Homo sapiens: one gene and its partners. The protein of the gene in region 2 purifies or fractionates together with the protein of the main gene of each other region. This does not show direct contact. Each region holds a gene or a part of one and is shown on either strand. Other genes may lie near its edges. The genes, in order: MIEF1, MAOA, GDPD5 and PACC1.

What was found.
Region 1: the proteins of MAOA (region 2) and MIEF1 purify together in Homo sapiens (affinity purification with mass spectrometry; 2 studies listed by BioGRID and IntAct, with this or other methods). This does not show direct contact.
Region 3: the proteins of MAOA (region 2) and GDPD5 purify together in Homo sapiens (co-immunoprecipitation; one large-scale study listed by IntAct). This does not show direct contact.
Region 4: the proteins of MAOA (region 2) and PACC1 purify together in Homo sapiens (co-immunoprecipitation; one large-scale study listed by IntAct). This does not show direct contact.

The regions. Positions count from the first base shown.
Region 1 is NC_000022.11:39,506,106-39,513,238, forward strand, and holds part of MIEF1 (mitochondrial dynamics protein MIEF1), read left to right. Parts: intron 1-3,316; exon of another isoform or gene 3,317-3,466; intron 3,467-5,182; 5' UTR 5,183-5,189; coding exon 5,190-5,333; intron 5,334-5,743; coding exon 5,744-5,921; intron 5,922-6,126; coding exon 6,127-6,389; intron 6,390-7,133. UniProt on the Homo sapiens protein: Mitochondrial outer membrane protein which regulates mitochondrial fission/fusion dynamics.
Region 2 is NC_000023.11:43,728,517-43,735,837, forward strand, and holds part of MAOA (amine oxidase [flavin-containing] A), read left to right. Parts: intron 1-2,724; coding exon 2,725-2,874; intron 2,875-3,177; coding exon 3,178-3,337; intron 3,338-4,182; coding exon 4,183-4,279; intron 4,280-7,321.
Region 3 is NC_000011.10:75,513,813-75,521,133, reverse strand, and holds part of GDPD5 (glycerophosphodiester phosphodiesterase domain-containing protein 5), read left to right. Parts: exon of another isoform or gene 1-2,119; intron 2,120-2,860; exon of another isoform or gene 2,861-2,918; intron 2,919-3,707; exon of another isoform or gene 3,708-7,321. UniProt on the Homo sapiens protein: Glycerophosphodiester phosphodiesterase that promotes neurite formation and drives spinal motor neuron differentiation.
Region 4 is NC_000001.11:212,384,921-212,392,241, reverse strand, and holds part of PACC1 (proton-activated chloride channel), read left to right. Parts: intron 1-5,141; coding exon 5,142-5,351; intron 5,352-6,816; coding exon 6,817-6,968; intron 6,969-7,321. UniProt on the Homo sapiens protein: Chloride channel gated by pH that facilitates the entry of chloride ions into cells upon exposure to extracellular acidic pH. Involved in acidosis-induced cell death by mediating chloride influx and subsequent cell swelling.

The DNA of each region.
Region 1 (7,133 bases), on a different chromosome or scaffold from region 2:
TCTTTGTGTTCCTAATATATTTTGGCTGTGAGTTGGGCTACACGCTGCTATCACTACCCCCTCAAAAAAACCAAGAAACAAAACGCCGTAGAGTTAATACTTCATTCCCACAACATATACTCCCTATGCATCAAACACTGCACACCCTGGGGATGCAGCAGTGAATGAGCCCAAATGTCCCCCAGAAGCATATGGTCTGGGGGTTAATGGAGTGGAGATGGGAACAAGGTGTGGAGCAAGTACCTAGGACCCCTGTAGATTAGTTCTCCGCACCGCGTGATCTCAGGGTTCAAATCTTGGTCACATACTTTACTGACACAGTGACCTTGGGTCAGTTACAGAAACTACTCAGTTTCTTCATCCTTTAAATTTGGGATAATATTACTGATCTCATGGGATTGTTGTTGTGAGGATTGAGGGAATTAATAATAAGTGTAAAATTGCCAGCACATAATACACACTCAATATCTGCTACCTAGTCTCGTACATACTCAAGCAAGATAGGTTTATAAAAAGGCCTATGGCTTTTTCAATTAAAATAAGTTGGAACTTTCACACTTCTGTGCTGTCATCCTAGGAAGCCGCAAGGCCTCCATTATTCATCATCCTTAACTATATTAGGGTGATGAGCATTTCTGTTCCCATTTTTGTATCTAGCGAGACAGGTTAAATAACTTGCCTGAAATATTGGCAGAGCTGAAATTCTCCATCCCTAGTTCTGCCCACCAGGTCTGTGTTCCTTCTTTGTTTTTTATTTTAACCATCTTAACCATTTTAAAGTGTACAGTTCAGTAGTAGTAAGTATATTCACATTGTTGGGTAACAGAGCCCCAGAACCCTTTTCATCTGGCACATCTGAAACTCTGTACCCATTAAGCAATGGGGTTCCTTCATGACAGTCCCGATTGGAGGTGGAGTTCTTACCTGCTAGTAGGCTGTAAGCTTATGCAGCAGAACCTGAGTGGAGAGCGTGTCATGGAGAAGCAGTTTAAACTGGAACAAGTTGAATTAACTTTTCAAGTAAGGTCCGTGTCTGTCTGTTGAGCTTGTGGATGCCGTCTTCTGTTCCAGGTCACCAGGTCTGTGATGTCAGTCCGTCCTTGGATGGTGGGCGGGGGGTGCCTATTGCACTACAGTAGGAAAAGCCTTTTTTTCTTGAGATGGAGTCTTGCTCTGTCACCCAGGCTGGAGTGCAGTGGGTGCAATCTTGGCTCACTGCAACCTCTGCCTCCCGACTTCAAGCGATTCTCCTGCCTCGGCCTCCCGAGTAGCTGGGACTACAGGCGCCTGCCACCACACCTGGCTAATTTTTTGTGTTTTTAGTAGAGACAGAGGTTCACCGTGTTAGCCAGGATGGTCTCGATCTCCTGACCTCGTGATCTGCCCACCTTGGCCTCCCAAAGTGTTGGGATTACAGGCGTGAGCCACCGTACCCGGCCGAAAAGGCTTAACAAGCTGGCCCAACTTAATAGTTTTGATCTCAGCTGTTGGCTCACGCCTGTAATCCCAGCACTTTGAGAGGCCAGGGTGGGCAGATCACCTGAAGTCAGGAGTTCGAGACCAGCCTGGCCAACATGGTGAAACCCTGTCTCTACTGAAAATACAAAAAATTAGCAGGGTGTGGTGGCTCATGCCTGTAATCCCAGCTACTAGGGAGGCTGAAGCAGGAGAATCACTTGAACCTGGGAGGTGGAGGTTGCAGTGAGCCGGGATTGCCCCACTATACTCCAGCCTGGGTGACAGAGTGATACTCAGTCTCAAAAAAAAAGAAAAAATAGTTTTGATCTCAAGTCCAAGATGGCATCACTGCGAATTTTCAAGGCCGTTTTAGAGCAGTCTCAAAAGGTGCACTGTCACTCAGAGGACAGTCTGGGTTGCTGACTGACTTCTGGAAGCTGACCTTTGTCCTGTGGATGGAAATCTTAAAAGACTAGAGGAGAACTCATTTGTGGAGCACTTTTACAGTTTATAGACCATCCACTGCAATACAGTTTATACCGTTCACATACAGGATTGCAGTGAATGGTTTTTCCTCACTACAACCCTGTGATTTGGTCCCACGCGGGGACCATTATCCCCTTTTCGTAGCTGAGGTGTTAAGTAACTCATTTGAGGTCACCCAGCTAATAAGTCAGGGCTCAAGGCAAGTTCTGTATCTCAGGATTTCTGACTCTAAAACCCACGCTCTGTTCTGTCATCTGTAGCACCACCTTGCTCTCACCAGTCATCAGAAGGGCACCAAGGACTAAAATGGTCCAGGGAGGCTGCTTCTGCCCTGAGTGAGGAGGTGCCCTTCTGGCCCTGCTGCATCACACTCAAGGATCATTTAGAGGGCACATGTGTCCAGTGGCTCTCCCTATTGTAAATATTTCAGTAAAGAGTTAAAACAAGAGACATTGTTATGTGTGGGGAAATGTATAGTGTTCTGCTTTTCTCCTGATTGGGTTATCTTGCCTCTGCTAAGTTTGGTTTGTCCCGTCTCTATCTCAGTGGCCACTGGAGAGAGGGTGTCTGCTGTTCTTCCCTGATTCCACCTGTAAATACAAACGTTATCTCTTCTCCCTGGCTTTGCTCTGTGCATTTGAGGTGGGAATGTACTCGGTTTGGCGAAATAGTCTTTCATGTCCCTAAACCTGAAGCCTCTATTGACTGTAAATGGTAGAGAAAAGGAAAGTACCCCCAAGGTGTGAACTCTAGTTAGGGAAAAAAATATTTTTGGGCTTGACAGTGACTCTTAGTTAACTCAATTACTGGAATAATAGAGTCAGAAATATTTCTTTGTTTTTCAGGGAGGTAGAGGCAGGAGCGTAAGATGTGGAAGCTAGAAATATCCACTTGTAACACGGTATTAGAAGGAATGTTATTTTACATGGAAGATAATCCTCAGTGATCCTTTTTTTTTTTTCTTCAAGACGGAGTCTTGCTCTGTCACCCAGGCTGGAGTGCAATGGTGATTCTCCTGCCTTGGCCTCCCGAGTAGCTGGGATTACAGGCATGCACCATCATGCCTGGCTAATTTTTTGTATTTTTAGTAGAGATGGGGTTTCACTATGTTGGCCAGGCTGGTCTTGAACTTCCGACCTCGTGATCCACCCACCTTGGCCTCCCAAAGTGCTGGGATTACAGGTGTGAGCCACCGCGCCCGGCTGATCCTGTCTCTTGATGTCCTCCCATTCTGGGACGCTAAATGGTATCCGACTTTGTTTTCCCTTATGTCATTCCTGGTGTGAAGGACACGGGATATTATAGAGGAGAGTGGCAGCATGCTGAGTGGTATTCCGATCTGAATCACACTGTCATCCTTTATCCGGCTCAGGCCCAGGGTTCTAACTCCACAGGAATGGGCTTATCTGGGGACTGCTGCTGCTGCAGTCAGGAAGACTCCACTGTAGTCGGGAGCAGCACTGGCCTGAGCACTGCACTGGAGGCCAGCCTCTTCGCTGTGGTGCCCAAGTACTTCTTTCAGGTGAACACATTTTTAGTTCCTCTTCCAGGTGTAATCGAGCAGATGGGTGTTTTGTTTTCCAGTTAGCAGTCGAGTCTGCAGTGTCCTTTGTGTTTTTTATCTCCCGGTATACCAGTCTCACCTAAGCTTTTATAGTCCCCGCTGCGCACTTCTCTCAAGAAACAAAGCATTTGTCAAGTAGGAGGGTCCATGGAGGGACCTTTCTCACATATGGACGTGTAGTTTCAGTTCCGTGTGCAGGATGTTTGGTACATGTTGTTTTGTGTTTTGTTTGCAGAAAGTAGATAGAATAAGGGCCGATTTGATTTGGGTAAGGGTGAGCATGGTACAGTAGAAAAAGCGTCATACAAGGAGTGGGGAGTCCTGAGTTCTGGAGATGACTGTGTCGTTTTGTTTTCGTTTTTGAGACGGAGTTTAGCTCTTGTTACCCAGGCTAGAGTGCAATCGTGTGATCTCGGCTCACTGCAACCTCCGCCTTCCGGGTTCAAGGGATTCTCCTGTCTCAGCCTCCTGAGAAGCTGGGATTACAGGCATGCGCTGTCACATCTGGCTAATTTTATATTTTTAGTAGTGACGGGGTTTCTCCATGTTGGCCAGGCTTGTCTTGAACTCCTGATCTCAGGTGATCCGCCTGCCTCGGCCTCCCAAAGTGCTGGGATTACAGGCGTGAGTCACCGTGCCCGGCCCATTTTGTTTTTTTATTTTTATTTTTAAGAGATGGGGTCTCACTCTGTCACTGAGGCTAGAGTGCAGTGGCGTGATCATAGCTCACTGTAGCCTCAAACTCCTGGGCTCAAGCATTCCTCCTGCCTCAGCCTCCTAAGTAGATAGGACTACAGGCATGTGCCACCATGCTCAATTTATTTTTATCTTTTACTTTTGGAGATGGGGGTCTTGCCATGTTGCTCAGGTTGGTCTTGAACTTCTGGCCACAAGCGATCTTCCCACCTCAGCCTCCCGGGTAGCTAGGATTATAGGCATGAGCCACTGCGCCTGTACCATTTCTTTTCTCTGAGACCTGACACATCACCTCCCTATGTTGAGAACCTCTGTGTGAGGTGATGTGATGGCATTAGATGAGCTCCAAGGTCCCGCTCAGATCTAACCTTCCACAAAGTAGTGGCCAAAGGACGAAGAAATGACCTGCATTATAACCCCTGTGATGGGGTAGAGAGACCTGCTTTATAACCTCTGTGAAGGGGTAGAGAGACCTGCATTATAACCCCTGTGAAGGGGTAGAGACCTGCATTATAACCCCTGTGAAGGGGTAGAGACCTGCTTTATAACCCCTGTGAAGGGGTAGAGACCTGCATTATAACCCCTGTGAAGGGGTAGAGACCTGCATTATAACATTGTGAAGGGGTAGAGACCTGCATTTTAACATTGTAAAGGGGCAGAGAGAGGGCTGTTTTGCATGGTGGGGTACTTCATTGTAATACAAAAAAGGACTGACACTGAGCTTAATGCTTTCTTAATCTCACTAGCTTGGGGAAAGTTTTCCTACAATACCCAAGATCAGCCCCTCCTCCTTGCATCCTGATCTATCATGGGACATTGTAGCTCCCTCCAGACCCTAAAGCATGCAGTGCTGGAGGCAAGAAGATTTGGGTTGCTGGAACTCACAGAGTACCCTGTACTTGTTGGGGTTTGGCTTGTTAGGGGAGGGAGGTTCTTGGGGTCCCAGTACTTATGGCCGTGTTCTGTCTTCATTCTCAGATGAGCAATGGCAGGCGCTGGTGAGCGCAAAGGCAAGAAGGATGACAATGGCATTGGCACGGCCATTGACTTTGTGCTCTCCAATGCCCGGCTGGTGCTGGGGGTGGGTGGAGCGGCCATGCTGGGCATCGCCACGCTGGCAGTTAAGCGGGTAAGTGCATGCAGCCAGGGCTGGGGGTGGAATGTAGTGGTATGGTCATAAGATGTAATGTTTTATAGAAAGAAAATGTCGAAGCGTTCTAGGAGGAAATGATCGCAATGATAAGTGAAAAAAACAGGTTTCAAAAGTATGTATAGAGTGATCGTCATTACATGCATCTAGAAAGAAACATACCAGATATTACAAACAGTTTTCTCTGGGTCATGACGTGGATTATCTATGTCTTATATCATGTAGTCTTCCCTGAGATTTTCTGCGTGGAGCAAAGTATTCTATAATCTAAAATAAAAACAAAATTACTAAAAGAACTTACTAGGACAGAGCTTCTGGGGAGGAAGTAAATTGGAAGGAAATAGGGAAAGAGGGCAGGTTTATGTCCTGTGTCCTCTCTGCTATTTCAGATGTACGATCGGGCGATCAGTGCCCCTACCAGCCCCACCCGCCTGAGCCATTCGGGGAAAAGGAGCTGGGAAGAACCCAACTGGATGGGCTCCCCACGACTGCTGAACAGGGACATGAAGACGGGCCTGAGCCGGTCCTTGCAGACCCTTCCCACAGACTCCTCCACCTTCGACACAGGTGAGAAGGGCTGCTGCCCCTCCTGGGACCTCTCTGGACTTTCAGTACCACTCCTGCACTCAGCAGATGTTTCCTGAGCACATCTGTGCCAGGCACTGTGCCAGCACTTGCCCTCCATGCCAGGCCCTTCTTTCTGGGGCTGAGGCAGCTGTGGACTGAGCAGGCATGGGCAGAGCTCACGTGCCTCTCTCTCTTGCCTTGGCAGATACATTCTGCCCGCCCCGGCCCAAGCCAGTGGCCAGGAAGGGCCAGGTAGACTTGAAGAAGTCACGACTCCGCATGTCCCTGCAGGAGAAACTTCTTACTTACTACCGGAACCGGGCAGCCATCCCTGCTGGAGAGCAGGCTCGGGCCAAGCAAGCTGCTGTGGACATATGTGCCGAGCTCCGGAGCTTCCTGCGGGCCAAGTTGCCTGACATGCCGCTTCGGGACATGTACTTGAGTGGCAGCCTCTACGATGACCTGCAGGTAACAAGGTGGTTCTCATGGTGGGTGGGGTTTGAGTGCTGAGCACCATAGTGTTGTTGGCACAGATCAGTGTCCCAGGCTTGCCAGAAAGACTGAGGTCTTACAGCTTCCGAATCCTGTGTACCTCAGCAGCATTTGGAGATCCATGCTTGTTATTCTTTTTTTTTTTTGAGACGGAGTCTCACTCTGTCGCCCAGGCTGGAGTGCAGTGGTGCGATCTCGACTCACTGCAAGCTCTGCCTCCTGGGTTCAAGCGATTCTCCTGCCTCAGCCTTCCGAGTAGCTGGGATTACAGGTGTGTGCCACCACTCCTGGCTAATTTTTTTGTATTTTTAGTAGAGACGGGGTTTTGCCATGCCGGTCAGGCTGGTCTCGAATTCCTGACCTCAGGTGATCCACCCACCTCGGCCTCCCAAAATGCTGGGATTACAGGCGTGAGCCTGGCCTGTTATTCTTTATTCTTGTGTCTTTAATCGTTTCTCATGTTTTAGTCCTACTTACAACTTCTAGGAAGCTATAAGAGGCCTCCTCCTTCCTATATTCTTGTGCCCATCTCTCCTTTCTAGTTTTCTCACTCTGTGTAGATTGCATGGTGACATGAAAGAATTTTTTTTTTTTTTTTTTGAGATGGAGTCTTGTTCTGTTGCCCAGGCTGGAGTGCAGTGGCACGATCTTGGCTCACTGCAACCTCCGCCTCCTGGGTTCAAGCAATTCTCCTGTCTCAGCCTCCTGAGTAGCTGGGAT
Region 2 (7,321 bases):
TTCATTTTGAATTAATTAGGTTTTGAGAATTAAGTTCCTTCCTTTTGGTAGCAGGTAAAATTAGGCTGTTTATGTAGGAGAAGCTAAATTCCTAAAATAATTTCCAAAAAATTCTAGAAATTGTACAATTATTGTACTTAAAATCATCTCTGTTCTAGACACAAGGTTTCTGTCCCATCTGTTTATCAGAGTGATTCTTTTATGTTAACTGCTACAGAAGGGAAGTGACTGTTCTTCCTTCTAATTCACGCAAGTGATTATGGCCACTCTTGCAATAGTAAATTCTGCCTTTTGGATTCTTAGTTTTTGCTACCCACTTGAATTTGCCCAGTTTCCATATCATTTCCTTTATTAATAAGTGAATTCATTTCGTTCATTGGCTGGACACATGGCGAAGCCAGAATCCTAATTCCCCAGACTCTGAGATTCTCTGCTTCAACCCTTTCTGTTATCCAAAGAGAATGGGTATCTCTGTTCTATAAATGTTGTGCTTGGATGGTATGAGGTTTAATTAGTAGCAGTTTACTTCTAACTTAGGTTCTCTGAGTTCCTGAATTCTGAGTGCACAGTACAAGGTATAGAGTCTTTCTCTGCCAAGTGAATTATTCTTCTCCTGAGGAGATCACCGGAAATCCCCAAGTTCTTGTGACACCAAGACTCATTGCCCATTTGACCCTTAGCCTTGACAAATGCAGGACAGTTGCATTTTTTAAATGTCTTTACCTACAGGCAGAGATGACAGATTACTCCTTTTAGCCAGTATTTTACTTTCTGAGGTATTTTGATTTACATTTGATATTTGTTTCCTTCATTCAGAGGAGCCAGGATACTTCTAGCCAAATTCTACATGACCTTTTGGAAAATATGGTTCAGATGATTAATCTCAAACCATGGTCACAATATTTTTATAAAGAACTTAGGCTTATCCTGTAATTTAATTCAACAAATACTAGACCTGGAGGGGTGGACAGTGAACAAGACAGAAACAGTTCGTGGTCTTTCCACCACACTAAAACTCAAAGTACCTCTTAGAAAACAGACCAGATTATAAGTTAAATGGTCTGGGTTTCTTGAGGAAAGACAAATCATGAATTTAGGTCTGAACCACTCTGGGAATTTTTTTTCCTTTTTTTAATTTAATTTTTGAGACAGAGTCTTGCTTTGTTGCCTAGCCTGGTCTCCAACTCCTGGGCTCAAGCAGTCCTTCCGCCTCAGCCTCTCAAAGTGCTAAGATCACAGGCATGAGCCACCATGCCTAGCCAGGAATATTTTTTATAAAGAACTTTGGTGTTGTTATTAAAACAGTAGCCAGTTACAAAAGTGCAAAAATCACTGCGTGGCTGCTTATGCAGTTTTCTGGAGGAGTATGATTGAGGAATCTGTTAGGAATCTTCTGGCTGGGCGCGGTGGCTCACACCTGTAATCCCAGCACTTTTGGAGGCCAAGGAGGGTGGATCACCTGAGGACAGGAGTTTGAGACCAGCCTGGCTAACATGATGAAACCCCATTTCTGCTAAAAATACAAAAATTAGCCAGGTGTCATGGCACGCACCTGTAATCCCAGCTACTCGGGAGGCCAAGGCAAGAGAATCACTTGAACCCAGGAGGCGGAAGTTACAGTGAGCCAAGATTGCGCCATTGCATGCCAGCTTGGGCAATAAGAGTGAAACTCCGTCTCAAAAAAAAAAAAAAAAAAAGAATCTTCTATAATAGGCTAAAAATATCCTTCTGGTTCTTACCAAAAGCATTGTGTTAAGGACTTACCTTCTTAGATTAAGCTGGAAACATTTCCATGGTGATCGTAGCAGAAGGCAGAGGGTAGAGCACTTCTGGTCTTATAAGGGCCGCTCAAGAGAACTATTTAACAATATCTAAAGGAGCAAGCAGATGCTTAGCCTTCACCCTCTGCCTCTGCCTTGAAGCTTCCAGATAGTTTTGCAAAAAGTTACTCAAGATCTGATATTCCGAATCTTTTTTTTTTTTTTTTTTTTTTGAGACGGAGTCTAGCTCTGTTGCCCACGCTGGAGTGCAGTGGTGCAATCTCGGCTCACTGCAACCTCCGCCTCCTGGGTTCAAGTGGTTCTCCTGCCTCAGCCTCCCGAATAGCTGGGATTACAGGCACGTGCCACCACGCCTGGCTAATTTTTGTAATTTTAGTACAGCCACAGCACCCGGCCCTTCTTCCCATTCTTAGAACATCATTTGGTGGTGACTAGTAGGACTAGTAGGACGTGACTATCCCTAAAAGCACCCTGTAACTTTGTCTATAATATGGCTCTATCTGCATCCTTACCTGCCTGGACAACCTCAGCCCAGAACACAGGAATCAAAGGAAATTAGAAACTTCATCCTCTGGAATAAGCCCTGTGCCTGCCCCTTCTCAGGGCTCCCTCCACACCCTGCACTCTTTGACATTTGAAGCCCACAGACTTGCTGATATTCCCCTTGGTCAGGGCAGCATTGGCATAGTGGAACATTTCTTCGGGTTCTGTGATTTTTATAAACTTGTAATGGCTTTTCTTTGCCAGAAGCTGTGCAGGGAATGATCATTGAATTGTCTTGGTCAACTCTGCCTCTGTCCTAATGAAGTCTTCTGACAGTTAAGTGTGCAGACGTTAGAGGTGTGGCCTGTGACTTTCTGGAGGTTTTCTAATCAGTAGCCAGTAGGATTTTCCTTCCTTGGGCTTTCATAATGTTTCCTTTCTTACCTACCTCCTCCTGTAGGAACGGAAGTTTGTAGGTGGATCTGGTCAAGTGAGCGAACGGATAATGGACCTCCTCGGAGACCAAGTGAAGCTGAACCATCCTGTCACTCACGTTGACCAGTCAAGTGACAACATCATCATAGAGACGCTGAACCATGAACATTATGAGGTAACTCAGTTTAGTCAAAAGGAGCATATAGTAAATAGGCCTTGTGTCTTTTGCAGTTTCTAACCAGATATAATTCAAGCAGTAGCATAATTAATGCTGACATGTTTCCGCCTCAGTCTTCCAAATTACCAGCCTTGGTTGACCTACCTTGATCTGTTTTGTTGCCTCACAGTTGCCTCATTTTCTCATTTTGTATGTTTTTACTGCTCAATGTTGTTTAGAAGTGATAAAGATGATTTTTCACGCCTGCCACAAAGACTGCAGCTCACATTTGAGGTAATATTTTGCTTGTGTGTGTTTTAGTGCAAATACGTAATTAATGCGATCCCTCCGACCTTGACTGCCAAGATTCACTTCAGACCAGAGCTTCCAGCAGAGAGAAACCAGTTAATTCAGCGGCTTCCAATGGGAGCTGTCATTAAGTGCATGATGTATTACAAGGAGGCCTTCTGGAAGAAGAAGGGTAGGCTGCTATTATTCATGTTTAAACTGTATTATATGAAGAAATCACAGTCTTTTAGGATTATTGAACAGAAGGTATTGAACAGAAACAAAGTATTTTCAAACTGGTAGAAAAAGGATTAGAAATCTTGGTCTGTCAATTTCCTCATATCCTTGGCCACACATAATGACCCCAAGAGCACTTGTTGGCAATGGGAGGGAAGAAGGAGATCACATCAGTCATAAGGCCACCATTGCCCTGACTCCTGGCATCTGTCCTGCTTCTTACTTTTTATGAGCAGAGTGAGGTCAACAGGCACCATGGAAAGAGCACTGCGTTGAAGTTACACATTCCGGGACTTCGCTTGCTTGCTAGCATCAGTCTGTAGCTGTAAAGTGGTGACAGTAATACCTACCACTACGGTGTTGTGAGAATTAAATGAGGCAGGATCTTGGACTTAGAAAGCTGCCCAGATATGGTGGCTACTGTTGATAAGCATTCTGGTTATACTCATCGGATTCCCTCCTCCCACCTCTTCCCTGGATTGGGTCATTCCCTCCAATGCAGCCCTTCTCTTTCCTCATGTATGCTAGGAGCCAGGGTTATCTTACCATTTTTGTCATGCATTGGCTGGTCATAAGCCCTTTATGTAAAGGTGATGGAGATGGGTCATTTTCTGTCTGTGGGTGAATAGACATCCTTATATATTCAGTGTGTGTATTTAACAAGACATGTAGGGTTGGGGCCAAGACCAAGAGTTTAAGTTTTTACTTCCTCTTAAAAAATAGTTTATATATATTTATGTGTGTATGGGTGTCTCTGATGAGCTTGATCTCGATCTCCCATTGATTTTTCTCCTGGTTAAGATTACTGTGGCTGCATGATCATTGAAGATGAAGATGCTCCAATTTCAATAACCTTGGATGACACCAAGCCAGATGGGTCACTGCCTGCCATCATGGGGTAGGTTAGAGCAGGGTGTTCTGCATTTTCCAAATTGTGTTGATGTATTGGTGTGGATGCTGTCAAAGTATATTACTTTGGAATTAAGTTCAAGCAATGATGAATAATGCTATCAAAATATATAATGTTTCCATGTGTTAAAATATTGCAGTAATGTTTCGTATGTAGCACAAGAATACTGGGAAACTTTACTAAAATTGACACCATTTTGAACTTGTACCCATGTATGTCTTTCTCTCATACAAAGCTTACGTGTTGAGGATGGAGTGAAAAAAAGCAGCTAGACAGGCAGTATGGTAGCCACCCCTGCCTACAGGCAGAATGTCCACAGCCATTCTGAAATGAGAACTAACCGCTTTATTCTATAAAAACATTCTAAATGTGGGGTTTCTCGGTTTTATCCTTTTCTCCATTCCAGATATCTGCTACATAGCAAATGTTAGTTGTTACCCTGAGATATAAGACAGCTGACCAATTAGGAGGCCCAGTTCAGAATTGAGCCAGGCCTTGATTGGATGGCATGGCAGTTTTTCTGGTGGGTCACTCTAGTTATCCTTCACCAGTGGTGCTTCACTTAACCTCTAAAGTGTGCGGATGACCCAGGGCCTGGTTCTGTGTAGGGAAAATGAGAGCTTTTCCCCTCTCTTCTCATTCCGGCACATAGCTGTCCTACTCGTTGGGGGCTGGGGAGTCCAGAGAAGGAAGTGGTGTCCCCACAAATGAATTGCTAAGGAGTTCCACAGCCTCCCTCTTGCCTGCCTTTTGGCCTCCTCAAAAACTATACAAATAAAAGGCGATTTATTCTACCACACTGTAACAAAAGAACATAGCTTCAGTAGCAATCAAGTGACTTTTAGAGACCAGTGGTCTCCCCTTTACCCCTAGGAAATGCATAGCTCTTGCTCAGAGGGAAAGGTGAACTCATGCACATCATGTCATTGAAGGAAAATTACAAAGGCAAAAGGAGCAGACCCACATCCCAGGGAAGTTAGAAAGCAGGTTGTGCTGCTGGTTACTAATGAGACATTTTATAACCACTTCTCTCATTGTAACATATAAGAACACCAGCCTCCCTGAGAAAGGCAGGTGCTTACAACATAATGACTGTTGGAATAACACATCCTCTTCATCTCTAACCCTATTGGGCAGAAGAGGATATAGGTTGTTTGGGTAGTTTGACATCATCTTCTATATGCCAGAGAAAAGCAGGAGGTTCAGGTACAGGTTTCAGGAGAATGTCGGTTAAGACAAATCCAACTATGAATGGAAGAGCAATTGATATTTTTCTTGCCCTGGGAGTTAGATATAGTGATGTCTTCTGCTGTTTTTGGGCTTTCTTTTTTTTTTTTTTTTTTTGGAAGTGGAACTCAATATTTTAATGATTTTACTTAAGATAAATAGTATAAAAGGAAAATGTTAAACGGTTGTGTTCTGTGGACAGTGGGGCTAAAACAAATATAAAATAATAATAATTGGTTATAGAGGACCAAGTACAGAAGATGAGAGTTTCCTTGGAAACTGGGGAATACCAAAATAATCTGTTTCTTAACTTGGCGATGTAGTCTTAAAAATTAAAGCTACCATTTATTGAGCATTGGTTGTGGGTGCAAGTTTTTATGTGTACAATGCTTTTGGGCTTTCTTCAGCTTTATTATTAACTAGGTTAGGGCTCAAATAACCTTCCAGGTGTTAATGGAGTTATTTAGGCAATTCTTAGAAAGTGATATTCTAATCTCTTTCATCTTGACACTTGCCTCCACCCTGCTCTTTGCTGATGGCCACAGCCACGAAAACCTTGAAGATAGGGGTGGTAATTGCCCAGCACTGTGTTTGTAATAAACTTTTGGAAACTAGAAAGGACCTTGTACTTTAGAACTGTGAAATGTTTCCAACACAAAGCCAGCATGTTTAATTTCCTCAATAAAACACCAAAGTAAGTTAAAGCTTATTTATCCATAGTTGGGATTAGATCAAAGAGATTATTTCATTCATGACTTGAGATTTGACAGAAATAACCAACACTAACTGCCCTTTGGGAAGGGAACTGTAAAAAGTATACAAGACAAGTTGACTAAAAATGTTTTCAGATAAATCATTTAATCTTTTATCAGATATTGATGATTAAAAAAAACTATATACATCTAAACTTACTGATTCTTGCATAAACCCAGAATCTAACTAAAATAATTAATAACAAGCTATAACTTGAGGTGTTAAATCATGCAAAATTATGACTATATCCCATAAAGTTCAATAGTTCAGATTTCCTAAATAGTCCACAGCTTTCTCTGAAATACTATTCTCTACATTAACATACATCTTTGCTTCTCAAAGTGATCTCAAATAACAGCCCTAAAGGAACTGCCAATCCAATTTGAGGAACACTTTAATTTGTGGGTAGGGAGAGGAGGAAATATCTGTTTTTTGCACTGATCTACCTGTCCTTTTGGTCTTGAATAAAAGAAATACAAATTTAAAAATTTTTTAATGGAAAAATAATTTCATTGTCCTTTAGCTCATTTGGATTTTTGAAAGCTTTCTAATAATAGTATAACTAAGGACTTCATGTCACAATTCAATTCTTTTAAATATACATGCAGTTAGTAATATCAGTATAATAAATAGAATATATTTGATTAAAGGGGAGCAGGCAGGTTATAACTGAGTTTTATTGAGTTACTTTATTTGGGGACTATATTAGGTCAGTTTCCAGGGAAGCTGACTCAGAGCTGGAGATCTGGGTGCTGGAACTTTATTGGGAAGTGCTCTGGGGATGACTACCTATGGCAGAAGGATTATGCGGAACTTGAGCTCCAATGTTGTCCCAACAAAGGCCTCTGCCATTCCCTTGGAAGTTCTGGAGCTGGGTGGCCCTTCAGAGTTGTCTTCAACCGCATCTAGGTCAGAACAACTCTAGGGAGGGGTGGGACCTTGAGCGAGGCATTCTCTGCTGCCCCGTCCAATTACTGGGGAAGGTTTCAGCTGTGAGGTAAGAGTAACGAGTGCCTGGTCCCAAAGGGAGCCTGGGGGGCCCACCGTGGC
Region 3 (7,321 bases), on a different chromosome or scaffold from region 2:
TATGGGGAGCAGGGTGGGTTCTGAGCTCCCCTGTAGCTCCAGCTTTCTACATCGTCTTTCGTGACCCTGGAGGGAGGAGGAGGAGACCACAGCACCAGGGCCAGAGGATGTGGTATGACGGGCAGCTGTGATTTTTGGCCTGGCCACTGTCTGGGCCAGCAGGCTGTGTGGGTAGCTGCCTCGCCCAAAGGAGGGTGGTGGCCTGAGCTGCAGGCAGCATGGTCATTAGCTGGCAGAGGAGACCCTGTGATTGGGAACTGGCTGGGCCAGGCCAGGCCAAGTTGGCGGGACTGGAGGCAGGCTGGCCGGGCCACAGCGGGGTCACTGGCAGGGCAGCCAGCTTCTCCTCCCTTTGCCCCCTTTGGGGTGGTGGCAAACACACACTGGGCACCAGAGCTTTGTAGGCCAAGGCTTACCCTTTCTCCTGCTGTGACCATGGGAAAGAGCAGTAAGGAGTTCAACCAGGTCCAAAGATGCTGCCTGCTATAAGCTTCCAGTACTCCTCCCATGCAGGTGGGATCCAAGCCTCCTCTGCTGCTGATTCATGGCCCTCTGCACACTGACTGTGGTCTGTGGATTGGGGTTCTGCTTGGTCTGCTTCCCTTGCTGGCTTGTCAAAACTAGATTCTATGTGCCCCCACCGAATCCTCCCCTCCCTCTGAGTGCCTAGCAGTGTGCCTGGCACAGAGCCACACCCTCCGGGCCAGGGGAGGCAGTGCAAGCTGCCCCATGGACAACTTGCTCAACTTTTGCACCTCTGTTTTTTCCCTGTACATTGGGGCTGATAATAACTGTTATTAAATGAGATGAAGGAAGTGGGGTGCCTGTCCAGGCCTGGCACACAGGTGGGTACTCCATCAGCATGAGTCTTCTTGCCCATCCCCTCGATGGCTTCGTGAACGAGCAACTCAGTAAGAAGCTGATGGAAGAGTCCAGTGAGTGATGGCTGGAGGGAGGGCGTGCCAGATGGCAGGGAGGCCTTCCCTTAGGGGGACTTAGCTGGGGTTTGCAGATTCACAGTTCCCACCACCTTCCCTGTGAACAGTGGTGTGTAAGCAGGTGCTGTTGGCCTGGAAGGGTCCCGAGCTAGGTTCAGGGGAGGGAGCAGGACTGGGATATCTGGGGACTTGGGTTTTCTTCTCAGGCCTACGCAGAAGAAATGACCCAGGTGGGAGAAGCCGTCTGGCGTCCAGCTAGCAGATGCTGGGCAGAGAGTGTGAGTTCTTCCTTAAAGGGAAGCAGCATTTATTTGGTGCTGCTCACACACACATCCAACCGAAATGTAACATGGTTGGAGATTCTGGTCTGTGGGGGAAACAGCATTAGACAAGGAAACACACAGATGCAAAACTTCCAAATTGTGAGAAGCAGGCTCCTGAGGCAGGGGCCGGTCCCATCAGTATCTGTGGCTGGTGGCACAGGGTAGGGCTAAATGACTTGGGCAAGTGATTTAACCTCTTTGGGCTTTAGTTTCCCCATATGTAAAATGGGGATAATTACAGCATCTTCATCATAGAGTTGTGAGGGTGAAATGAATTATACGTGTAAAGCACTCAAAAAAATGCCCAGCACATAATGAGCACTCAGTGCAGGTTAGCTGTTATGATCTGTATCTCCAGCACCTCACAGAGGATCTTAGAGAAAACAGGTGCTCAGGAAAGGCGTTTGGAATGAATCCCAGGCAAAGGGCAGCTGCTCCGTGGAATGAATGAATGAACAGCCTGGTAGGGTTGGGAGGACACAGAAGCAGTGACAACACAGAATGTGACAGGGAAGGCCAGGGGCCTGGGGTTGCCCGGCGCTGGGTGGGGAGGGGAGTCAGGGAAGCCTTCCTGGAGGTGGTGCCCATGTTGCTGACTTTGGACCTCTGTGAGATCAGCACTGAATGAGCTGAGAGAGGAGTAGCTCCTCTCCAAAGGTAGCTGGCAAGGAGGAGAGCTTGGGCAGACCCCAGGACCAGTGGACTCCACAGGCCTCTCACTTCCCACCAACCCACACCATCTCTCCATCTGTGACATTCTGCTTTCAGGGCATGAGGAAGGCGGAAAGGCAGGTGGGGAGGAAGTGTGGGCTGCTGGTCTGACAGGCTCAGCTCTTCCCAGGCTTGTGACCAAATCTCCTGCAGAAAAGGATAAACAGGCCTGCTTTGAGTTCTTTTATCTTCTTGCTCCCAAGGCACACCAGCAAGCAGAGGGGGTCTTCCAGCGTTAATCCTGCAGCTGTTTAGCTTTTGAACGAGTGGACTCTTTAAAAAAAATGCCACGAAGAATGTCTCACTCTCTCACCCAGGAGGCTCAAAGAGAAACTTCTCTCCCACTGACAAGGGAGCTGGAACCCCCAAGTGTCTTAAAGAAGCTCACCCCAGGGGCAGTCTGAAATCAGGGGACCCCTCATGCTGCCTCGATTTGTTGCTGGCTGTGGGGCCTTGAGGACACCCTTATATTTTGCTTGGCTTCTGCCCATTTTGTAAAATGGGGTCAGGGTAATAAATCCCTTCTTTCCTTAGAAAGGCGTGTGGCAGGAGAGTTTCAGAGGTGGGAAGGGCAGCAGTGGGCATCCAAGCCCATGGCTTTCAAACTTTGTTTCACATTAGAATCATCTGGGAAACTTTTAAAAGTCCTGCAGGCCCCACAATCTCTGGGGCATGACCCAGGCATCAGTAGTTGATGAAGCTCCCCTGGTGATTTCAGTTTGAGAGCCACCTGGCTGCCCTCTGCAGCCTACCTCCCACAGTGTCCCAAGACAATACTTGCACATCCCCAGGACAAGGAGCTCATTCCTTCCGAGGCTGCTTCCTCCCCCCAGGACCTTCCTGCCTGGAGAGATGAGGGGAGTGGGAAGACTTGGTAATCCAGTTAACCTGGGTTCCAGCATGCAGCTGCTCCCTGCGTGTCTTCTCGGAGCCTCAGTTTCCTCATCTGAAAAATGACAATAACGATCTCTCTGAAAGGGCCACAGAGGCCAGACGAGGCCACACATGGCAAGCACCCACCCCATACCTGACGCCGGGCTGGACTGAGACCCTGAACTCCCTGCCCCAGCCACCTGAGGCCAGGTCTCTGAGACTGGCGCTGGTTAGGGTGGGATCAACACCCAGCCCGGGGGCCCTTCCCACTGTCCCCTTTCTCTCTAAGAGATAAGACAAGGCAGTAAGCATTTTGTTTTGCTCAGTTTTGCTTTAATGGTCAAAGTGTCAGACTCTCCTTAACAATGAAGCCTTGTCTGAATCTGCTTGTTTTTCCAACCCGGACACCCAACTGCACCACCTGCTTGGGGCCCCTGTCCCACCTGGGAGAACTGAAGAATGTCAGAGGATTTTTTTTTTTAATCTAGGGGAGGGTGTCCAGGGAACATTGGAGGCCTCTGTGCAAATCCTCACCGATAATTGACCCCACTTAAGTCATCCAACTCTGCTGTGATTGTGAGCCAGTTCACTAAAATTATTTCAAGGTAGTTACTAGGTGTTGAGCTAAACCCCTATCAGTGCCAGTGAGGATGGCACCAGGCTCAAGAGGCCAAAGAGGAGACCCAGAGCCAGCGAATGAGCCATGGGGTTTTACTACGGGCTCACACACAGGGGAGAGAGTCCAGTGGCTGCTGGCTGGACCGAAGAACCACAACCACTCGCAGGAAGTGTGCAGTTTTTTTGTTTTTGGTTTTGGTTTTGGTTTTTTTTTTTGAGACAGAGTTTCGTTCTTATTGCCCAGGCTGGAGTGCAATGGCGCGATCTTCACTCACTGCAGCCTCCGCCTCCCAGGTTCAAGCGATTCTCCTGCCTCAGCCTCCCAAGTAGCTGGGATTACAGGCAAGTGCCACCACACGCAGCTAATTTTGTATTTTTAGTAGAGATGGAGTTTCGCTATGTTGGTTAGGCTGGTCTCAAACTCCTGACTTCAGGTGATCCGCCTGCCTCAGCCTCCCAAAGTGCTGGGATTATAGCTGTGAGCTACCGCCCCCCAGCCTAAAAGCTTGCAATTTCTATAGCATTTTCACTTAGCACCTCCCCCAACAACTTCCACCTAGCAACCTCCATTTACCCCAAACCACAGACCTCAATCCTCTGTTTGGCCCGCAAGTTCCATAGGATGGGCCAAGAGCTCAGATGTTCCTCATAGATAAGGAGTGGATCTCCGGGTTGGCTACTCCCAGATTCCTTAGCTTAGAACCAAACTGCATTGAGGTGCGCCTGCCATACAAGGTCATTCTCAGGGCTTGCTCAAGTCCAGGTATCACTGTCCAACGTGTCTACCATACAGAAGACAGAAAACTTATGTTGATCCTGGCTTTGTCACTTACTGGCAGGATGACCCTGGAAGAATCATTTTATCTCTTTGAGCACGAGTTGTTTCTCCTATAAAATGCATTTGTAGGAAGGACTTCCTGGGATTACCTGAGAAGCAAATAAAATTACTGGTATGTGGAGCACAGTGCCTACCGTAAACTAAGCACTCAAGAGCTGTTGGTGCATGCACTTGCTGGGGAGCTGACCCCTGCCTCCTGCCCCTTCCTTCACTGGCTGGTCCACGCTCCCTGTCTCCCAGTCTGCTCCCCTTGCCCCACCAGGCCCAGGCTGAGACAGAGGACAGAGGAGGCCTGCACATGTAATCATGGGCATCCCTTCAAACTGCTCTTCTTTAAGACCAGAGGAGGCTCTGAGGACTGGACAGAGGAAGACTACAAAAGGGGCCATCAGTGGCAGTGCTTGGTCTCCTTGCCTGGGCACAGCCAGAGAGGGTACATCAACCCAGAGTGACTGGCTCAGGCATTAGGCGTGTGACAAATCAACACGGGATAGTGCAGCACCGAGGGACTAGCAGTGGCTGGGAGCAGTTACCACTCAGGGCTGAAGGAGCAAGGGAAGTGGGCAGCTATAGGGATAGGGGCTGTGGGCCATCAGTACAGGGACCCAGTCAACCCAGGAGACCTCACAGGGGATAAACTTCAACTATCTTTCCTCTTTCCTTCAGTCCCCCATTTATGCTTCCTGTTGGGTGTACCTCTCTGAAAGCCAGCAGCATGGAGCCCATTACATTCCACAGAGGTCAGTTCCCAGGGCCCCAAACAAGGTAGAGAGTGGCTCTGGAGAAGCAAACCAAAGACACTTCCTCACTCTGTCCATCAAAAGCCCGGGAGTCCACTGAATACACTGTCCTTAGGACACAGTTTAAAGATCATCTGTTTTTACCATACCCCTTAATGAAGGGGCTCTCAGCCCTTACCCCAAAGATGAATCAGCAGCCGAGCTGCCACAGACACCTCGGCGAGAGGAGTTTTGGAGGTACCCATCTCTCCCTCTCTGCCTCCTCCACCAAAGTAAGCTATAGATGGCTTCTGGGGTGACCCTGCCAGGGACAGGGGAACCTCTGGAGTGGAGCAGAAGTCACAGGTAGGCTAGTGTCAGGCGAGTTCAGGTGCACAGAGCAGCGGCCCCAGCCCTGCTGCGACTTGCCCATCCCAGAGCTGGCCATGATGTGGCCACTTCACACACCTTCCTTAGAGCTGGGCAGTCATTGCCACAGTTCTGGGGATAGCCCTGGACCCAGAACATGTTCCTCATGTCCAGGGTGTTAAGAGCCATGCCACTCTGAGTTCAGAGGGTCTCCCAGGAGCCTATGAATGTCAGGTAAGAGGAGCGTGGGGCTGGGCAGGCCTGGGACAGGCCGTGCAGCAAGTGCCACCAAATGCTGCCAGGCCTTGTGATGGGGAGTCTGGGTGTGGAGTTAGGTGGGGGGTGTGGTTCTTGCCAGGCAGGGAGCAGGAGGCATAATGGTGCCAGAGACTGAGCCTTGCCCAAGAGGAGGCATGGTCAGGGAGAGGACAGAAGATATGACACTTTGCATGGAAACCATGTGGGAGGCCCCCACGGGGTGTTGTCTGCAGGGGCACAGCCGGCAGGTCTAGGACACAGAGCCCTTTACAGCTGGCTGCCAGCGAGCACTCCCTCTCCTTCCTGAAAGGAATGCCCCTGGCATCTCCACCAGCTCACACCTAGGCATCTGAGGTGACACAGTGAGATGCCCATGGCAGGTGTGGTAACACCTGGATCCTCAGAGACTTCCTGAGAAGGGAGGTATGTGGGCCTCGGAGTCAGAATTCTGGCTTGGAATCCTGGCTCTGCCTCTCTTGAGTGGAACTTAGAAGACATGGGCAAGTCACTTAGCCTCTCTGAGCCTCAGTTGCTCACCTATAAAATTAGAGCAGCAACACTTACCTTCCAGGCTGGTTTGAAAGTAAAATGACATAATGAATGAGACAGCATCCTGTATTTCAGAGGAGATGCTACAGTTGCCCTCATCATGCCCCCCTTCTCTGTATGCTGTTCATGCTTAATGCCTCTGCAGGAAGTTCTTTCTTGAGACTAATTGAAGTCCACTCTGCTGCAATTGGAGCCTTCTTCCTCTTGCTGGGGACTCTGCAGAGGCAGACTGAGCCCCTCCTCTGTCCAGATGTGCCCTGTCAGTGCCTGCAGTGAGTGAAGCAGAGAACTGGGTGACCAGGTGTTGATTTTCACCTTGGAGCTTGGGGGTTCAACTGTCAATGGCCAGAGCCTCTTGACCATGGCAGGATAGGGGGTGCATCATCCTAACTCTTCACACTGTTCTTCCTCTCTGTGCTTAATGCATGCTCCAAAAGGGGTGACTTTGGGCCCGTGCAGAGAGCCCTGGGCTGGGCCTAAAGGCCTGGGTCCTGGCACCTCCGTCTCACTGTGTGGCCCAAGGCCAGTTAGCAACCATTTCGGGCCACCGTGGGCCTGCAAGGATGTCTGTGCTCTAGGGCCCAGGTCCCTCCAGTGAAGACATATGTAGTTCTGACTGAAGACCCTTCTCCTGCTTCTCCCCCTCTGGGACCCTAGCCAACCTGGGAAGACAGCAGATAGGGTCCTGCTGGTGGCTGGCAGTGGTAGCAGCTGAGTCCATCTCTCAGACCAGGACTGCCAAGGGCAGGCCGAGAATTCAAGGTTAGATGGGTGATTCCTGGTAGGTAGGGTTTTGCCTCCCTCCTCAAAACAGAGCCTGGTGCTCCCCTTCCTACCCACTCAGCTGAACTCACCCAGCTCAAGGGCAGTCATGTTTGAGTCTCTCCTTGGAGTGGCTCCTTTCCCACATGAGATCCGCTTTCATCCCTCATTTTGCAGGTGAGAAACCTCGGGCTCAGGCAGGTGAGGTGACTGGCTTGAGGTCCCACAGCCTGTCGGTGGGAAGTGGTGAGGGTCCCTGCGGCAGCTCCCATGGCACCTGGGCCAGGCCGTGCCCTCTAGGTCCTCAGCAGGAGTGGAGCACAGGAGAGTCAGGAGGCTACTAGCCAGGTGGTCTCCTGGTCT
Region 4 (7,321 bases), on a different chromosome or scaffold from region 2:
ATCAGCTGTTAGTCTGATGGGCTTCCCTTTGTGGGTAACCCGACCTTTCTCTCTGGTTGCCCTTAACATTTTTTCCTTCATTTCAACTTTGGTGAATCTGACAATTATGTGTCTGAGAGTTGCTCTTCTCGAGGAGTATCTTTGTGGCATTCTCTGTATTTCCTGAATTTGAATGTTGGCCTGCCTTGCTTGGTTGGGGAAGTTCTCCTGGATAATATCCTGCAGAGTGTTTTCCAACTTGGTTCCATTCTCCCCGTCACTTTCAGGTACACCAATCAGACGTAGATTTGGTCTTTTCACATAGTCCCATATTTCTTGGAGGCTTTGTTCGTTTTTTTAAATTCTTTTTTTCTCTAAACTTCTCTTCTCGCTTCATTTCATTCATTTGATCTTCCATCACTGATACCCTTTCTTCCAGTTGGTTGAATCGGCTACTGAAGCTTGTGCATTCATCATGTAGTTCTCATGCCATGGGTTTCAGCTCCATCAGGTCCTTTAAGGACTTCTCTGCATTGGTTATTCTAGTTAGCCATTCGTCTAATCTTTTTTCAAGGTTTTTAACTTCTTTGCGTTGGGTTTGAACTTCCTCCTTTAGCTTGGAGAAGTTTGATCGTCTGAAGACTTCTTCTCTCAACACATCAAAGTCATTCTCTGTCCAGCTTTGTTCCGTTGCTGGTGAGGAGCTGCGTTCCTTTGGAGGAGGAGAGGCACTCTGATTTTTAGAATTTTCAGTTTTTCTGTTCTGTTTTTTTCCCCATCTTTGTGGTTTTATTTACCTTTGGTCTTTGATGATAGTGATGTACAGATGGGGTTTTGGTGTGGATGTCCTTTCTGTTTGTTAGTTTTCCTTCTAACAGTCAGGACTCTCAGCTGCAGGTCTGTTGGAGTTTGCTGGAGGTGCACTCCAGACCCTGTTTGCCTGGGTATCAGCAGCGGAGGCTGCAGAACAGCGAATATTGATGAACAGCCAATGTTGCTGTCTGATCGTTCCTCTGGAGGTTTTGTCTCAGAAGGGTACCTGGCCGTGTGAGATGTCAGTCTGCCCCTACTTGGGGGTGCCTCCCAGATAGGCTACTCAGGGTTCAGGGACCCACTTGAGGAGGCAGTCTGTCTGTTCTCAGATCTCAAACCCTGTGCTAGGAGAACCACTACTCTCTTCAAAGCTGTCAGACAGGGACATTTAAATCTACAGAGGTTTCTGCTGCCTTTTGTTCGGCTATGCCCTGCCCCCAGAGGTGGAGCCTACAGAGGCAGGCAGGCCTCCTTGAGCTGCGGTGGGCTCCACCCAGTTCGAGCTTCCCGGCCGCTTTGTTTACCTACTCAAGCCTCAGCCATGGCAGGTGCCCCTCCCCCAGCCTCACTGCCGCCTTGCAGTTGGATCTCAGACTGCTGTGCTAGCAATGAGCGAGGCTCCGTGGGTGTGGGACCCTCTGAGCCAGGCGCGGGATATAATCTCCTGGTGTGCCATTTGCTAAGACCATTGGAAAAGCACGGTATTAGGGTGGGAGTGGCCCGATTTTCCAGGTGCCATCTGTCACAGCTTTGCTTGGCTATGAAAGGGAATTCCCTGACCCTTTCTGCTTCCCGGGTGAGGCGATGCCTCACCCTGCTTCAGCTCACACTCGGTGCGCTGCACCCACTGTCCTGCACCCACTGTATGACAAGCCCCAGTGATACGAACCCAGTACCTCAGTTGGAAATGCAGAAATCACCCATCTTCTGCATCTCTCTCGCTGGGAGCTGTAGACTGGAGCTGTTCCTATTCAGCCATCTTAGAACCCAATATCAATAGTCTTTTTTTTTTTTTTTTTTCTTTTTGAGATGGAGTTTTGCTCTTGTTTCCTAGGCTGGAGTGCAATGGCGTGATCTCAACTCACTGCAACCTCCGCCTCCCGGGTTCAAGCGATTCTCCTGCCTCAGCCTCCTGAGTAGCTGGGATTATAGGCATGCACCACCACGCCCAGCTCATTTTTGTATTTTTAGTAGAGACGGGGTTTCACCACATTGGCCAGGATGGTTTCGATCTCTTGACCTTGTGATCCGCCTGCCTCAGCCTCCCAAAGTGCTGGGATTACAGGGGTGAACCACCACACCCCCGGCCTCAGATATTTTTTGTGACCCATTTTCTGTCTCCAGTTACATGTCACTACACTGCTAGATACTGTAACAATTTTCCGGGCTCCATTTGGTTTTTTTTTTCCTTCAATATTTTCTTCAAATTGGATAGTTTCTGTTGATTTAACTTTGAGTTCACAAACTCTTTCTCTGCCATCTTTTGCTATTAAGCCTATACAGTGAACTTTTTATTTCATTTATTTCTTGTCAGATCTGGAATTTCCATCTGTTTTTTTAAATTTTATGAAACATTTTTACAGTGGTTAGATACACGTAATGTAAAACTCATCATCTTACTCATTAAAATGTAGAGTTCAGTGATATTAAGCACTTTCATATTGCTGTGCAACCATCACCACCATCCATCTCCACAATGCTTTTTCATCCTGCAAAACTGAAATTCTATATATTTGGCCATTGTTATTAGTTTCTGTTTCTCTATTGATCTTGTCTTTATTCCTTATTCAGATATTTTCCTTTAAGTGCTGTAAATTTTCTCTCTGCTAAATTGCAACACTGGGTCATCTTGGTGTTGGTTTCTATAGATTGCTTTTTTCTTGAGTACAGGTCACATTTTCTTGTTTCTTAGCATGTCTAGTGATTTTTGATTGAACACTGGACATTATGAATGATATAGAGATTCTGGATTCTGTTATGATCTTCAGAAGGGTATTTTTTTTTCTTGGCATATTGTTAATATGGCAAGATTTAAGCTCTAAACTCCTATCTCCCCTGCATTAGCCGTAGTTGAAATCTCCATGCAGTTCTTTCAATTTCCAGTTGTTACTTTTTGCTGGCCCCCCCTGGGTTCTCCAGCCAAGGATCTGAACATATATTTAGTTGCAGATTTGGGAGTTTCACCCCCTGTGTGGCTCCCTCCCTTTCATGGTTTTGTCTTAACTTTCTGGCTGCTCTTCCAGCCCTGAACTTTGTCCCTGTCACTCTGAACCATGCCTTATAGGGATTGGCATGTATTCTTAGGCAAAAAGCTACAGATGTATAAATCTCACCAAGTACAGTTCTTCTCTTTCAAGGGTAGCCTCTCTTTCAATTTCTACCTGCTTTTGATCATTCTCCCAGTGCCTTCAAATAATTTAAAATATGTTGTCCAAAGTTTATAATTGTTTTCTGTGGAAGGGTGATGTGACACTGCTACTCTGTCACTGTTGGAAGCCAGATGCCAAGCAGATACCTTTTGGGGCTTACGTTCAGATGCTTCCCTTGTTCTCAGCCTTGTGCTCAGCTGGGCTGTGGAGGAAATAGGACTTCTTCTCAGGGAGCTCCATTTTCAGCTGAGGAGCAGAGAGGGCACAGGGAGCCCTGTGGGAGTATCTTAGTCAGCTCAGACTGCTGTAACAAAATGCCACAGTTGAGTGGCATAAACAACAGAAATTTATTTCTCACAGTTCTGGAAGCGAGAATCCAATATCAAGGTGCCAGCAGGATTGAATTCTGGTGAGGCCTTTCTCCTTGGCTTGCAGATGGCTGCCTTCTCATTGTGTCCTCACATGGCCTTTTTTCCTGTGTGCATGTGCTCCTAGTGTCTCCTCCTCTTATAAGGATTCTGGTCCTATTGGATCAGGCCTCATCCTTATGGCCACATTTAACCTTAATTATATCCTTGAAGTCCCTGTCTCTAAATATACTCACATTGAGGGTTAGGGCTTCAACCTGAATTTGAGGGTGGGGGATACAGTTTCGTCCATAACAGAGATTAATCTAGCTTCTAGCCTCAGGATTTTGTGAGGGAGGTAGGGGAGACAGAGTTGTGTTGTACCAATAGCATCAGGACGTGTTCAATCAGTCACCATGTAAATGCAGAATGTTCCAGGCATAGCATGAAGGGCTAAGGATTCAGTTAGGGATAAGACTGGCCCCATCCCTGCCCTCATGGAACTCACAGCCTAGGAGGATAAAAGATGTATAGACATGACATTGCAGAGTGATGAAGTAGGGGACGTACAGGGCTCCCTGGGAACACTGAGGAAGAGGTGCCCAAATAAAGGTTAGGGGTCAGGAGAGGCTTCCTCAAGAAAATGTCTTTCTTTCTTTTTTCTTTTTTTTTTTTTTTTGAGATGGAGTTTCGCTCTTGTTGCCCAGGCTGGAGTGCAATGGAGTAATCTCGGCTCACTGCAACCTCCGCCTCCTGGGTTCAAGCAATTCTCCTGCCTCAGCCTCTTGAGTAGCTGGGATTACAGGCATGCGCCACCACGCCCAGCTAATTTTGTATTTTTAGTAGAGACAGGGGTTTCACCATGTTGGTCAGGCTGGTCTCGAACTCCCGACCTCAGGTGATCCTCCTGCCTCGGCCTCCCAAAGTGCTGGGATTACAGGCTTGAGCCACTGCGCCTGGCCAAGAAAATGTCTTTCTAAATTAAAATGCTTCCATGGAAGGATGGCGTGACCAAGCTACTCTGTCACTGTTGGAAGCCAGATGCCAAGCAAAAAGCTTTCGGGGCTTAGGATGAGTGAAGCATCAGCTGTGGAAGAAAAGAAAATCAAGCAGAGGGAATGGTAAGTGTGAGGGAATCCCGGGTTGAGAAGGGCACTCCAGAAGAACAGAAAGTCGATGAGTAGAGGTGGAGCTAGAGCTGGGAGAACTGGGGAAGTGGAGCAGTGAGGGATAAGGCCAGAGAGGTAGGTTGGGGCCAGCTCACTTGTTGGATTGTAACTGCCTATCCCTCTAGAGAGTAAACTCCTTTTTTCTGTTCTTTTTGTTTGTTTTTTGCTTTTTCTTTTAACATTTTTATCGTTTTTTATCTTTTATCTTTTTTCTTTTGAGAGTAAACTCCTTAAAGACAATGAATAAGTCTCCTTCAGCTTGGTGTCCTCTACCTGGCAGAGAAGCTGTGTAGTAAATGTTTACAGGTGCCCTTTGTTATGATTTGTGGGGTGAGGTGGAAAGGTTGGGCGTGCAGGTGACTTCACCTCCTTGGTGAGGCAGGCAAGGGCCTGGAGGTTGCTGGCCATCTCTGTCTGTACCTTGTCCCTGTGCCCTGGGTCACATGGTGTTTTGTTGTTGTCAGGCCTGGACAGCGAGTCCGCCTCCAGCAGCATCCGCTTCAGCAAGGCCTGCCTGAAGAACGTCTTCTCGGTCCTACTCATCTTCATCTACCTGCTGCTCATGGCTGTGGCCGTCTTCCTGGTCTACCGGACCATCACAGACTTTCGTGAGAAACTCAAGCACCCTGTCATGTCTGTGTCTTACAAGGAAGTGGATCGCTATGATGCCCCAGGTAGAGCCTGCCCCTGGGCCAGGCATCAGGGCCCCAGATCTAGGGTGTCAGCTGGCAGATACTCCCTGAGCTGCCGTTGTATTTGTGGTACTACGGGCAGGGCAGAGGAGTCCAACCAAGCATAGTCTAGGTATAGAGTCTATGCCCAAGGAGCTGCTGTTGGGAGTGTGTTACGTGCTGAGGACAGAAATGGACAGAGCCTGGAGCAGCTACTGCAGGCTACTAGAGGGGTCAGGGAAAGCTTGGCAGAGAGGTAGGATTTGAGATGGGCCTCGAAAAGCACATAGATGGGAAGAGAGTGTCTTTGGGATGGGGATCAGCAGAGCGAAGGGGTGTCTAGGGAGGCAGAGGGCTTCTCTGGAGAGGATGAGACTAACTTGGCTGGGGCCAGAGGGCAGGGATGAGGAGAAGCAGGAGTCAAGGCTGGACTGTGGGGTGGGGAGGATGGCAGGGGAGGCGAGGCCATTCAACCCTGCCTGGAGAGGGACTCCCAGGCCACACTGGGTATACCTGTCTCACTGGGGTGTCTGGTCCCTGAGTGGGGAGTCCACTCTGCTATAGAGCAAGCTATCTGCTCTGGGCTGCAGGGCTGGCACTGGATGTTCTAGGGGCTGTAGAGTAAATGAGGAGGCATGAGCTGTGTGACTTGGGCCCTGTCCACCCAGTGTGTGCCACCTGTTCTGCCCACAGATGCCCCTGAGTAACCTGTGGGAGGGCCTGCTCACATGGCAGAGCCAGAGTCCGGGTGCCCTCTCTCTGGGGCTTCCTGCCAGCCTCCAGCAGAGTCAGGTGTGCTGGTCATGGCTCCTCTGCCCATCTCTTCCTGTCTTGTGTTTGTCCCTCTTCTCTGTGTGTCTGCTTGAGTCTTCTTTATCTGTACGTTTTACTTTCTCTGTCTGGTGTCTTAGTGTCTCTGAAGTCTGTCTGTCTCTGATGCCATGTGCTGCTGTCTTAGCATTGCTGCCCTTGAGGCTGGACAGCTACTGTCAGTAGAGGTGCCTGGGCTGGGAAGAGGGAGGGACTCTTGGGATGTGACTTGCACACTTGGGGCTCCCAGTCTAAGAGACAAAATGAGTTCTGAGGAGTTCCACAGTTTAGAGCCTCCCAGTGATTCTGCAGGTGGGTGTTGGCCCAGAGGGGTGGCACAGGGGCTGAGTCAAGAGACACTCCTTCGGAGGGTGTGGAGCGGGGCTCTGAGGTGGAGTGGGTTTTGATGTGGGCATCAGGGCGGCTGGATCCCAGGTTGGCCAGGGGCTTACTGAGGAGGGGCTTGTGCCCTCTGCTACAGCGGGGCTTTCTGAGGCCAGGGGATGTGGCTCCTCACCCTCTGAAACCCTTTTCTTCTCCCTTCCCTGCAGTCCTCCAGGGAGTCCAGAACGTAGGTTGTTGGTAGGTGTGAGATGATTTCAGGGATGTGGTCAGGAGTGTGATTTCTGACACTTGCTTTTCCTGTTTGTGCCCCCAGGTATTGCCTTGTACCCCGGTCAGGCCCAGTTGCTCAGCTGTAAGCACCATTACGAGGTCATTCCTCCTCTGACAAGCCCTGGCCAGCCGGGTGACATGAATTGCACCACCCAGAGGATCAACTACACGGACCCCTTCTCCAATCAGACTGTGGTAATTCCTGTCTGCCTGAGCTGGGTCTGGGCAGCTGCTCTGTTAGCCCCGCAACCCAAGGCCCCAAGTTTCCTTTTTCCTAGGAGTCCTTCTTCCACTCACTCAGTGTGGGGCCTTAGTCCCCAAGGAGACATGCGGCTGTGCCATGTGGACACTTGGCTGTGGTTGGCTCACTTGCATTCAGGGAGGACAGTGAGGCCTCCAGCCTTTGCTGAGTAATGCTCAGGGATTCCTGACAGTGCGGTGAGACCCTGTCCCCAATGGAAGAATGGCAGGGCTAAAGGGTGGGGCTGGTGCGATATAGCGAAGTGGGTCCCATACCTGACCACTTGACAGAATTGCCAGGATACTTT